2 linked regions of the Homo sapiens genome follow. The protein of the gene in region 2 interacts with the protein of the main gene of each other region in a biochemical or structural test. Each region holds a gene or a part of one and is shown on either strand. Other genes may lie near its edges.

Evidence for each region.
Region 1: the proteins of MC5R (region 2) and POMC form a complex in vitro, tested with the Homo sapiens proteins (one study listed by BioGRID).

What each region holds. Positions count from the first base shown.
Region 1 is NC_000002.12:25,160,139-25,165,646, reverse strand, and holds the end of POMC (pro-opiomelanocortin preproprotein), read left to right. Parts: exon of another isoform or gene 1-11; intron 12-824; exon of another isoform or gene 825-854; 5' UTR 855-874; coding exon 875-1,006; intron 1,007-3,894; coding exon 3,895-4,566; 3' UTR 4,567-4,787; downstream 4,788-5,508.
Region 2 is NC_000018.10:13,820,037-13,827,238, forward strand, and holds the start of MC5R (melanocortin receptor 5), read left to right. Parts: upstream 1-4,112; 5' UTR 4,113-4,238; intron 4,239-5,690; 5' UTR 5,691-5,729; coding exon 5,730-6,707; 3' UTR 6,708-7,202. UniProt on the Homo sapiens protein: Receptor for MSH (alpha, beta and gamma) and ACTH. The activity of this receptor is mediated by G proteins which activate adenylate cyclase. This receptor is a possible mediator of the immunomodulation properties of melanocortins.

The sequences.
Region 1 (5,508 bases), on a different chromosome or scaffold from region 2:
TCCACCAGGAGGTAATTCCCTTCTGGTCTCTTTCCCCTCCACATCTGCATCCTCTTCAAATCCTGCCATTTCAGACCACATTTGAGAGCTCTAGAGAACAAGACATCTGACACGTGACGTGTCCAGAAGATGAGCCAGATTTCAAAGAACTGAGATCTGCTTTAAAAACGAAGCTCTCCAAAGTTACTGGAGTCTGGGTAATAGTGATCACCAGAGTAATTTGTGTGCAGGACATCAAATCAGGCTGCTCGAAATGCTGCCTAAATTGGCCAGTGGTTTTATTTGCTTTTCTGTCAACCTAATATTCATAGGAAATAGAGTTTCAGAGGAATGATAGGATCCTGGTGGAATAAAAAGGGAAAAGACCATCTTGAGCAGGAGTTTCAGGGTCCTCCGTTTTTCCCAAGTTACTTTCACTCCTGAGATCTTGCATGTTAGAACTACAGCTTAATGTAGTGAAATAGGAAAGTTCTCTGTTAGGAGCTTAGCCTTACCTTGTCATGGACATTAAAGTAATTGTCTCTCTTTGGGCTTCAATTTTCCCATCTCTCATGGGAAGGGCTGAACCAAGCAATCCCCAAAATAGCTTCCAGCCTTAACCTTTTTAGGGGTCTCGTTTAAATAGAAGATAACAGGGAAATGGTCACAGTTTACCCACCATTCCCTCCTCCTTATCACAACTTATACCACCGCTGTACTGCACACCTCCTTTCTCAGCATTGCTGCTGTCCTTAAAATGCCTTTAACTCCACAAGAGAGTGTGTTGTTAATGTTGGCTCAAGGTCCTTCCTGGTGAGTGGCCAACATTGTTTTGCTCCTTGCAGGGGTCCCACCAATCTTGTTTGCTTCTGCAGAGCCTCAGCCTGCCTGGAAGATGCCGAGATCGTGCTGCAGCCGCTCGGGGGCCCTGTTGCTGGCCTTGCTGCTTCAGGCCTCCATGGAAGTGCGTGGCTGGTGCCTGGAGAGCAGCCAGTGTCAGGACCTCACCACGGAAAGCAACCTGCTGGTACGTGGGCCATGACTGCCATCTTGGCTTAGACATTAGATGGGACTGGAGCTGGGAAAGCTCAAAAGAAAAGGGTGTGGGGAAAGGGAAATTCATTCCCAGTGATAGGCGTGATTCAATCCAGGGCAGGAGCAAAACTTTGCAGTGAAGTAAGAAATGGGAGAAGAAATCAGGGAAGGAAGCAGCTTCAGGGAGAGGGGTTGAGTCCACAATTTCTGCTTGGTTATCCTTACTTCTTGCCCCATCTTTTATGGAGACCTTGAACCCTTTAAGCTAGAGATGGTGCTATAAGAGCAATAATGGACCCCTCAATCTATTCTGTACTTTAAATCTTTAGCTTCCCAAACTATTCCTTTTTAAGAAGCTCATATCACTTGCCATTTTCATTCCATATTTCTTACCCTTTTATCTACTACCGGTTGCAAAACCAGCCAGGTAGTTCTTCAAATCATCTCTGGAAGAAGGAAAAACCAGGGGCCCTTTTTTTTTTTTCTTTAATTGGTGCCAAATGTCTCATGTTTATTCTGGAGGACTGGCCTTCTGCTGTGTTCCTCTACAGTCTTTCCAGAGCATGTGAAGGCCCTTTGCATCAGGCAGGAGCTCCCTCCAGGTCACCACAGGGTGTATGTATCTGCCTGTGGGGGGTGTGTGTGTGTGTGTGTTGGGGGGCATAAATGAGTAATGATGCCAAATCCAGAGATTAAAAGGCACACTGAGACCAGGCGAGATGGCTCATGGCTGTAATCCCAGCACTTTTAGATGCTAAGGTGGGAGGATTGCTTGAGCCCAGGGATTCAAGACAAGCCTGGGCAACATAGTGAGACCTCCACTTCTACAAAAAATAAAAAAGTTAGCCAGATGTGGTGGCATGTGCCTGTAGTCCTAGCTACTTGGGAGGTTCACTTGAGGCCAGGAGTCTGACGACACAGTAAGCTATGATCACACCATTGCACTCCAGTCTGGGTAACAGAATGAGACCTTGTCTCAAAACAAAACAAAATGAAACAAACAAACAAACAAACCCCCATACTGTTAGTGTCAGTGACCGGAATTTTAATCTTGTTGCCATCACCTGGCAGGTGCTGAGGGTGGAATGTACATAACTACATTCTGTGTATTTTGTCAATGCAGAAGCTGAGTTAAGGTGAAGATAGAATGAGGTCCTCAAAGACACAGACCAGTTTTCATGTGTAATATAAAATAGAAACAAAGAGCCCAGGGGATTCTGTGAGTTCCAGTTTGGAAAGACCCAAGAGTCTCTTGACTTGAGACACCCACAGCACAGCTCACCAGGGAGGGTGCACTGGACACAGTCAGGACCCATGGGTTCTAGACCCAGTTTTGAGGTGTGGGACCTTGACCAGGTCCTATCACCTCTCTGAGTCTCCTGTTTCACTATCTGTCCACGGGAGGGGAGTGTAAATTAGTTTTTTCCATTGTTAACGTTCCACAGAGTTGTAATTCTGAACACCTGGAGTAGGCAATGTCCAGCTCAACAGAGTGGGTAGGATCCTTTTATTTTCTCCTTTGCTATTCCCAAGAAAGAGAGCAGCCAGTGAGCTTTTCATCTTTTTATCACTGAAAACTCAAGGCTGCAGCCTATGCAGCCATTTTCCTAAGCTAATATGTACCACAATAGAGTCCTCTAGGGACAAGGAGCAGAGACACAGGTTCCACAGACGGTGCAATGGAAATAACGCTAGCTTTCCACCCCTCCCTCCAGTCAGAATGAGATTACAGGGAAATAAGCTTGCCCCAGAGCTCACTGGGGGATCTCTCAGAAATCAGCTCAGAAGTCGTGAAAGAACCAAGGTGCAGTTTTGGAGGCTTAGTGCAGAGATGGAGCTGGGGTAGGGCATAAAGTAGGTTTTTCATCACTGAGGTAAGGTTGAGGCATTATTTTTTATTTTTTGTTTATTTATTTATTTTTTTGAGACGGAGTCTCGCTCTATCACCCAGGCTGGAGTGCAGTGGCGCGATCTCCCCTCACTGCAAGCTCCACCTCCCAGGTTCACACAGGTTGAGGCATTATTAAAAATATGTTTAAAAATATGGGCCCTAGTAGCCAGACTTCTATCACCTGGAGAGATTATCCCCCAAATTTCAGCCCCACTCCCCTCCTGGACTTGAATTAAACCATATGTATTTATTCAATATTCTTTTTATTTATTTATTTATTTTTTTGAGACGGAGTCTTGCTCTGTTGCCCTGGCTGGAGTGTGGAGTGCAGTGGTGTGATCTTGGCTCACTGCAACCTCTACCTCCCAGGTTCAAGCGGTTCTCCTGCCTCAGGCTCCAGAGTAGCTGGGATTACAGGCGCCCGCCACCACACCCAGCTTATTTATTTATTTATACTAGAGATGGTATTTCACCATAGTTGGCCAGGCTGGTCTTGAACTCCTGACCTCATGTGATCTGCCTGCCTTGGCCTCCCAAAGTGCTGGGATTATAGGTGTGAGCCACCGTGCCCGGCCCTCAATATTCATTAAGTGCCAACAACTACCACCCGTCTGCCTTTCTTGGAGCCACTCCTTTATGTCAGGCATATAACAGTAAGACTTTGGTCCTGTTCACAAAAGCTAGGGGTGGCTAGATGGCTAGACAAACCATGGAATGGGATGGGAAGTGTGTTGCAGTTGCCAGGCAGAAGCATGAAGGGGATGGGACAAAAGAGGCAGTGGCAAGATCTTAGATGCCCACGAGTGCCAAGAAAGCAGGTGGGCAGACCTGCTCTGTAGGGAGGCCTCGACGCTTGACACGCCCGACACTGTGCCCTGTGTCCTCGGCACGTGGCGAGGGCGGCCAGGGCCTAGGCGCAGTGACGGGCGCGGCAGCCGGGCCGGGGTGCGGGGCACGGGCTGCCCTCATGCCCTCGCGTCTTCCCCCAGGAGTGCATCCGGGCCTGCAAGCCCGACCTCTCGGCCGAGACTCCCATGTTCCCGGGAAATGGCGACGAGCAGCCTCTGACCGAGAACCCCCGGAAGTACGTCATGGGCCACTTCCGCTGGGACCGATTCGGCCGCCGCAACAGCAGCAGCAGCGGCAGCAGCGGCGCAGGGCAGAAGCGCGAGGACGTCTCAGCGGGCGAAGACTGCGGCCCGCTGCCTGAGGGCGGCCCCGAGCCCCGCAGCGATGGTGCCAAGCCGGGCCCGCGCGAGGGCAAGCGCTCCTACTCCATGGAGCACTTCCGCTGGGGCAAGCCGGTGGGCAAGAAGCGGCGCCCAGTGAAGGTGTACCCTAACGGCGCCGAGGACGAGTCGGCCGAGGCCTTCCCCCTGGAGTTCAAGAGGGAGCTGACTGGCCAGCGACTCCGGGAGGGAGATGGCCCCGACGGCCCTGCCGATGACGGCGCAGGGGCCCAGGCCGACCTGGAGCACAGCCTGCTGGTGGCGGCCGAGAAGAAGGACGAGGGCCCCTACAGGATGGAGCACTTCCGCTGGGGCAGCCCGCCCAAGGACAAGCGCTACGGCGGTTTCATGACCTCCGAGAAGAGCCAGACGCCCCTGGTGACGCTGTTCAAAAACGCCATCATCAAGAACGCCTACAAGAAGGGCGAGTGAGGGCACAGCGGGGCCCCAGGGCTACCCTCCCCCAGGAGGTCGACCCCAAAGCCCCTTGCTCTCCCCTGCCCTGCTGCCGCCTCCCAGCCTGGGGGGTCGTGGCAGATAATCAGCCTCTTAAAGCTGCCTGTAGTTAGGAAATAAAACCTTTCAAATTTCACATCCACCTCTGACTTTGAATGTAAACTGTGTGAATAAAGTAAAAATACGTAGCCGTCAAATAACAGCAGCATGGATCGGAGGAGCACAGTGGTTTCCATGCGGTAGGATATTTCACAGGACTTAGTGAGCGTGAAAGGAAAATGTGCTTCCTGCCCCCACCCCCAAATGGATCTTCGAGGGATCAGATAGTTTGGGTGAAGGCACAGGGTGGCTCCAGCACCTCTAGGATGGCCGTATTTTCCACACACTCCACTGAGTGGGAGACTGCTCAGCTAGCACACGTGTAAAGGCAGGATTCCTGCAAGAGTGACCCCGGGCGCTCAGGGGCTCCCCGGCTCCGGTCCACCTCCAAAAGCCAGTTGGACAGGTTGAGGCCTACCCACGCCTGGGAGTGCTCTGGACTGTCAGGTGAGAAGTCTTGGTAATGTCTCCGGGGAACTGCTCGTAGCAATCCATGGGACCTTAGGCAAGTCTCTGAACTTCTCCAAAATTTAGTTCTTTCATCTACCCCTCCCTTCCCAGTATGAGGGTTATTGTGAAGATTAAAGGAGAAAATGGACATAATCTTCTTTTTATCATAGAAGCTAAGTGTGAGAGCTGAGGGTTAGTATCAGTTCCAATTTCACTCCCAGGCTACTCACAGATACGCTCAGACATACGGTCTCTCTCACACACACACACTCATGGAGACACACATCTGTTTAATACAACATACTCTACGCAGTTGCTTCTTCCAGCCCCTAGGGCTTAAGCCCTGACTCAGGCCCTCTGACCCCTCCT
Region 2 (7,202 bases):
TTGCCTTAGCCTCAGTACCTTCGTAGAACCTGCAAAGCCTTGGGTGCCCTCACAAGCTCTTTCTCCAGTCACTGGCACTCTCTCTCTCCCTCAAAGAAACCCACCCCTCCCGCCTTAGCGCCCTAGCTGGATGTTCCCCAGCCTCCTCCCACCTGGTGACCGCATTTCACCCTTCAGCCCTCAGCTTCCATCTCCTGCTTTGGCCCATTCTGTACCCATCACGGGCCTCTCTGCATGTCCAACTCTCTTCCCTTCGCTTCATGCTCTCTCCCTGTTCCTCTCTGCCTGCCTTTGGGATCCCAGGGCACCTGAGTTTCCTCCTCTGTGGCAATGGGACTGAGGCACAGGACTTGAGTCCTTAGACTGTGATTAAGCACAGATACCACCTGGAAGTCTGGATTCAGATCCTGATCCTGCTTTCATCACCAACTGAGAAGTCACATGACTACTCAGAGCTTCAGCTTCCCCATCTGTAAGATGCTGGGAAGAATGTCGACTTTATAGGGCTGCTGGGAGAATTCACTGAGAATACGGACATGCAGACCACAGTATTGGACACTGCAGGCTCCCAGCAAATGTTCCTTTCCTTTTCTCTAAGTAAGGTGGGAAACTCGTGCATATCTAGGATCGCATTGCCCAATGTTCATGTGTGACATGGGCAAGTGCATCTACATAAATGTGGGCTTGGGATTGAGAAGATTTGGATCAACAGCTGGTGGCACCACTGACCAGCCAAATAGTGTCAGAAACTCCATGAGCCTCAGAGTCTGTGTCTATGAATATGGTAATAATGTTAATACCTTCCAGGGTTGCTTTAAGGACTACGTAAGTTAATATATGAAAGTATTTTGTAATCCTTGGAGTTTAAAAATTGTCATAACCCAGCACTTGTGATTATCTTGCTTTCTCAGCACTCACTTGGGTGAGCTTTGCCTTGCAGCAGGTCTTTTAGTGCCTTCGTCCAGCCCCTTGGTGGTGTTGAGCACAGAGATGACATTTGATAAGAGTTTTCTGGCGCCATGAGAGCGACAGACACAGAGCTGTGCCAGACACCTCAGGGGAGGACCTGCTGCCCAACTGTAGGGGTGGTCTGCTGCCTCCCCCAGCTGTCAGCCCCTCCGGTTTGGCCTCACACCTTCCCGGAAGCAGCTTGCTTCTGGTGACTGAGCTGGGTGGGGCGTGAGGGCTGAGGTTGTTGGAGCTGCCTGGCAGCTCTCTTCTCTCCCTCCCCTCCCATCCCTCCCTCCGCAGGCCTGCCCCCAGGAGGCTTCCCCACAGCATCCTGCATGGTGAACTCTTCAGAGCCTGTGACTCAGAGAACCCAGGCCGAGACATCCAGTGTCCAGCTAGATTTGACCCTTGCAAGCCTTCACAGATATGACTCCACGGGTTGTCTCTGTGCACTCGAATTGAGAATCCTCTCTGTTGTCATTGTTCAAGAAATAAAACACCTGGGTTGTTGCATGTTATGCTGGTCTTTGACAGGGAAAGGAACATTCCTTCCTGGGTGGCTCATGTCATCGTGTGTGTTCAGCATTGTCATTAGGCTGCTGTTTGGGAGAAAGTTTCCAATGACAGGAACAGTTGAAGAGCTTAGTCTCTATTCTCTTAACTCTATTAACCTTAATTCAATTATTTTCCTGCAAGAAACCGAGAATTCCTACATCACCTAAGGTGTTTCAGAATATAAAAATAATCAAAATATTTCCCCAGTTTATTAAACAAAGTTAGGGTAACTTATATACCAAAATCTGATAAAGACAGTATGAAGACAGGAACACTGCACATCAAATCCAGCAGCATTTTAAAAGAATAATGCCCGGTGGCACCAGGGCTCTCAGGGAGGCTGCGTCCTGCCGGGGAAAGTGCTTGGGCTCTGAGTCAGTCGGGGCTCAGCTCTCTAGCGCTGGAAGCTGGAGCTTGCTAAGTCACCTCTCCCAGCACCGGCTCCTTCCATTGCGAGAGGAGAAACCCACTTCTAGGGTTTCGTAAAGGTTGAGGAAGGTAATTCCTGTGCAGCACTCAGGGTCACCCCTGCACATAGGGCCCCTGGGCCAGCCGCCCTCACCACTGTGGGAGGCCGCCTGCTGTGGTCCAGCTGCTCATCTTGCACAGAGCCCTCCATTTTGAGCACTTTCCTGGGACACCAGGACCTTTTGCAGAGCCCTCTCTGATCTGATCTTGGATGTGAGGACTATATGTGGGAGTGCTTGACCCTGCTGATGTTTTCAACACACGGAAATGGGTTCCCTCCCTCACACCACATTCCCAATATGTATTCTCAACATTCAGAACCTCCTTCTAGAATTCCACCCTGTGGCTCCCAGCACGGCTTGGGACTCCAGTGGCGTGAGGCCAGCCAGACTGTGGTCCCCACACTTGAAATACTGGAAGGTTGTGATCATCTGCAAAGCCCAAGGAAAGCTCTGGTAGTGATATGGCCCCGTGCATCCTGCCCTGGCTTGCAGGGCAGTGGCACTTCTGCTTATTGTGAGTATAATGATTCTTTTGGGGGTTGAAGGTCAGTTTTAGGTGTCAGAGAAGGAGTGGGGTCCAGAAACTATTGCGAAAGGCCAGGATATTTGGTGAGAGGACATCCTTTGTTCTTTTTTGCTGGAGTAAGGAAAGCCTGTGTGGTTGATAAAGCCTGGCATGGCATGTGTAGTCCTGGAGGAGGGGTGAGAGCCTTGGGCAAAGAGGGGCGTGGTAGGGCCACAGATGAGGGCTCCCAGGCACTGGGCCTCCTTCCCAAAGAACAATCATCAGGACATCCCAGAGACCACTGTCCAGGAGAAACGGGGTGACAAGCCCTCTTTGAGCTCGGGAGCATTTTAATCAGTGCTCAAGAGGAAGAGAAAAGAAACAAAAAGTGCAACCAGCCAGAAAAACAACCAAGCAGCTACCCACCCAACCACCCATCCACCCACCCACTGACCCAACCAACCACTCCCCCACCCAACCACCTATCCATCCACCCACCGACCCAACCAACCAACCAACCAACCACCCACACAACCACCCATCCACCCAACCCACTGACCCAACCAACCAAACCAAGCAACCACCCACCCAACCACCCATCCACCCACCCACTGACCCAACCAACCTAGCAACCACTCACCCAACCACCCATCCATCCACCCACTGACCCAGCCAACCAACCAACCAACCAACCACCCTCCCAACCACCCATCCACCCACCCACTGACCCAACCAACCAACCAAGCAACCACCCACCCAACGACCCACCCACCCACCCACTGACCCAACCAACCAACCAAGCAACCACCCACCACCCACCCACCCACTGACCCAACCAACCAACCAAGCAACCACCCACCTACCCAACCAACCCCCACTTACCCAATCAACCAACCAAGCAACCATCCACTCACCCAACCAACCACCCACCCACCCAAGCAACCAATCAACGAACCAAGCAACCACCCACCTACCCAACCAACTACCCCCCACCCACCCAAGCAAGCGAGCAAGCGAGCAAGCAACCAAGTAACCATCTACTCACTCAACCAAGCAACCACCCACCTACCCAACCAACCAATCAACCAACCAAGCAACCACCCACCTACCCAACCAACCAATCAACCAACCAAGGAACCACCCACCTACCCAATCAACGAACCCCCCACCCAACCAGCCAAGCAACCAAGTAACCATCCACTCACCTAACCAATCAACCAATCAACCAATCAGGCAACCACCCACCTACCCAACTAACTAACCCGTAACCACCCAACCAACCAAGCAAGCAACCACCTGCTCACCCAACCAACCAATCACCAAACAAGCAACCACCCACCCACCCACTCAACCAACCAACTACCCAACCAAGCAACCACTCACCCAACCAACCATTCAACCGACCGACCGACCGACCGACCGACCCACCGACCCGACCGACCAACCAACCAACCAAGCAACCATCCAACCATTCAAGAGTGTGTTCGGGGGGATTTTCGCTCGGGGCTGACGCGGTTCTCTGGCCGCTGTGCCGTGCTGGGCCACTAGGTGGCAGCGGAGGCCGCCCGGAGCGACAGCCGGCGGTGCGGAGGCGGGCCCGGCGCGGGCAGGCAGGAGGCTTAAAGCCCCGCAGAGCCGCAGCCGCCTAGCTGGGGGAGAGGCCCGTCCGGGGCTGGCTCTGAGCGCCGCACGGCCGTCGGATCCCGGGGACGCCGGGGGCCCGGGCTGAGCGCCGCGGCCCGCGAGGAGGAGCACCGGTAAATAGCCACAACTTTCTATCTCCTTGAGATCCTGAGAATAAATGCAAAATCGCGCTTCCGCTGCATGTGGAAGTGAGCGGGGCGGCAGCTAGCTTGCCCCGTGAGTTTTTAACACAGCTCGATATGATGTTTAGTATAATTGCATAATTTACCGATATATCTGAGCTGGAACTCAGCTGTAACAAATGATTGTAGTTCAATAAATGCTTAGATTACCAATTTTTTCCTTTTTTATTTTTATAGATTTAGGGGGTACAGGTGCTGTTTTGTTATATGGATGTATTGCATAGTGGTGGAGACTGGGCTTTTAGTGTAGCCATCACCCCTATAGTGTACATTGTACCTATTAAGTAATTTGTTGTCCCTCACCCCCTCCCTCCCTCCCAAAGTGATTACAAATATTAATGATGACAGTGATGACAGAAATTCTCTCCAGATGTGATCTGAGTTTGGAGGGCAAAGGGATTTTTGAAAATGAATCATAAGAGAGAAATTTTGCAACAAAGGAGTGTGGTACATTTAAATTGCTGTTTTTTTTTTTAAATACTGTGCTCACGCGGACCTAATAAACTATCAAGCAGACCTCATGGAATTCCACATAATGCAGAAGCGAGGGAAAAATAGGTATTGAGGGAAAAGCAGCACTGTTTTCCTCAATTTTAACACGTATGTGCAGCCTACACTTACAAACTTAAGACAGTAGCTTTTAACATGTGACTTTGCTCAGGGTAACAGACCATTCTGGTTATAGCCTTACTTACAGCTGTGGAGGCTGAATCCTGATGGGTCTAAGAAGTGTCAGGACAAGTGTTAGGGATGCACCTGTCTGTCTGTCTTAAGGGAATACGGGTCTGGGCAGTCTTAAATCGGAGCTCCCTTGAGGAGAATGTCGTGCAGTAGCCTTAGGAATGTGAACATTGGGAGACTGGCTGGGATTTTGTAGGTTATGAGTTGGGGACACTTATGATAGTGAACTTGAGCCCAGGAGAGAAGCCATAAAAAGTGAAACTGTCCTGGGCACTTGGAGGTGAGTGTCTCTCTAGTAAGATGCATGTGAAAGGCTGGGAGCTGAAAGCAAGGAGAGCAGAAGAGGCTGGTGAAGATTCTAATCTGCGTGTCCAGGGGCACTCTTCCAGGTCTCAGGAACGCAGGTCAGAATGTGCAAGCCAGCTGCCGGGCACGTGGCTCACCCCTGTAGTACCAGCACTTTGGGAGGCTGAGAGAGAAGATCGCTTGTGGCCAGGAGTTTGAGACCAGACTGGGCAACATAGGGAGACCCTGTCTCTTAAAAAAAAAAAAAAAAAAGGACTGAGTGAGCCGAGCCCAGTCCTCTGATGCACTGTGTCATTCATCCCCTTTCTTAGGCTGTGTTGGTTCTAGGCTAGCTGCTGTCTTTCTTTGGTAGGCTGCTAACCTCTTTGGATTGTGAATTTAAAACATGTTTTACAGTAAATTTGCTGCCAAGACAAGAGGTGTATTTCTCCAGCAATGAATTCCTCATTTCACCTGCATTTCTTGGATCTCAACCTGAATGCCACAGAGGGCAACCTTTCAGGACCCAATGTCAAAAACAAGTCTTCACCATGTGAAGACATGGGCATTGCTGTGGAGGTGTTTCTCACTCTGGGTGTCATCAGCCTCTTGGAGAACATCTTGGTCATAGGGGCCATAGTGAAGAACAAAAACCTGCACTCCCCCATGTACTTCTTCGTGTGCAGCCTGGCAGTGGCGGACATGCTGGTGAGCATGTCCAGTGCCTGGGAGACCATCACCATCTACCTACTCAACAACAAGCACCTAGTGATAGCAGACGCCTTTGTGCGCCACATTGACAATGTGTTTGACTCCATGATCTGCATTTCCGTGGTGGCATCCATGTGCAGCTTACTGGCCATTGCAGTGGATAGGTACGTCACCATCTTCTACGCCCTGCGCTACCACCACATCATGACGGCGAGGCGCTCAGGGGCCATCATCGCCGGCATCTGGGCTTTCTGCACGGGCTGCGGCATTGTCTTCATCCTGTACTCAGAATCCACCTACGTCATCCTGTGCCTCATCTCCATGTTCTTCGCTATGCTGTTCCTCCTGGTGTCTCTGTACATACACATGTTCCTCCTGGCGCGGACTCACGTCAAGCGGATCGCGGCTCTGCCCGGGGCCAGCTCTGCGCGGCAGAGGACCAGCATGCAGGGCGCGGTCACCGTCACCATGCTGCTGGGCGTGTTTACCGTGTGCTGGGCCCCGTTCTTCCTTCATCTCACTTTAATGCTTTCTTGCCCTCAGAACCTCTACTGCTCTCGCTTCATGTCTCACTTCAATATGTACCTCATACTCATCATGTGTAATTCCGTGATGGACCCTCTCATATATGCCTTCCGCAGCCAAGAGATGCGGAAGACCTTTAAGGAGATTATTTGCTGCCGTGGTTTCAGGATCGCCTGCAGCTTTCCCAGAAGGGATTAAGCACAAAGTGCTCCTCTCTGTGGCTCTGTTCTCCTTTGTTTGCTCACCTATGACAAAGCGACAGCCAAGGGGTAGGCGGGAGTGCTAGCATCCCATTTTTCTCTTTACCAGCTCAGACATGGGCCTAAGAGGCTCTCTCTGTTCAGTTCCTGGTGATTATGTCCAACATGCAAGGGTTGCTTATCCACTCTGGGGACAGTCATGACAATTTCTTACTGTCCTTTTGTGTCCTATGGTTTCTACTGCTCCCACCCATTTCTGGGGGCCCCATCCACCCTCCACCTAGCAGGCATGTGCTCGGGGAATGCACAGCACCCTCAGTGCAAGCCAGACATGATGAAACACGTATTGTGACGCGAAGAAAACCGTGATATCGACGCCAGGTGGGATTGCTTCTTCTCCCCAGAAGCAGGTCCACACTCTGCTGGCTGCACTCTGAGCTATGCATGCTTTTCAGGGAAGAAAAGAGTGGCCAGATTCTTTCCATCAGAAGCA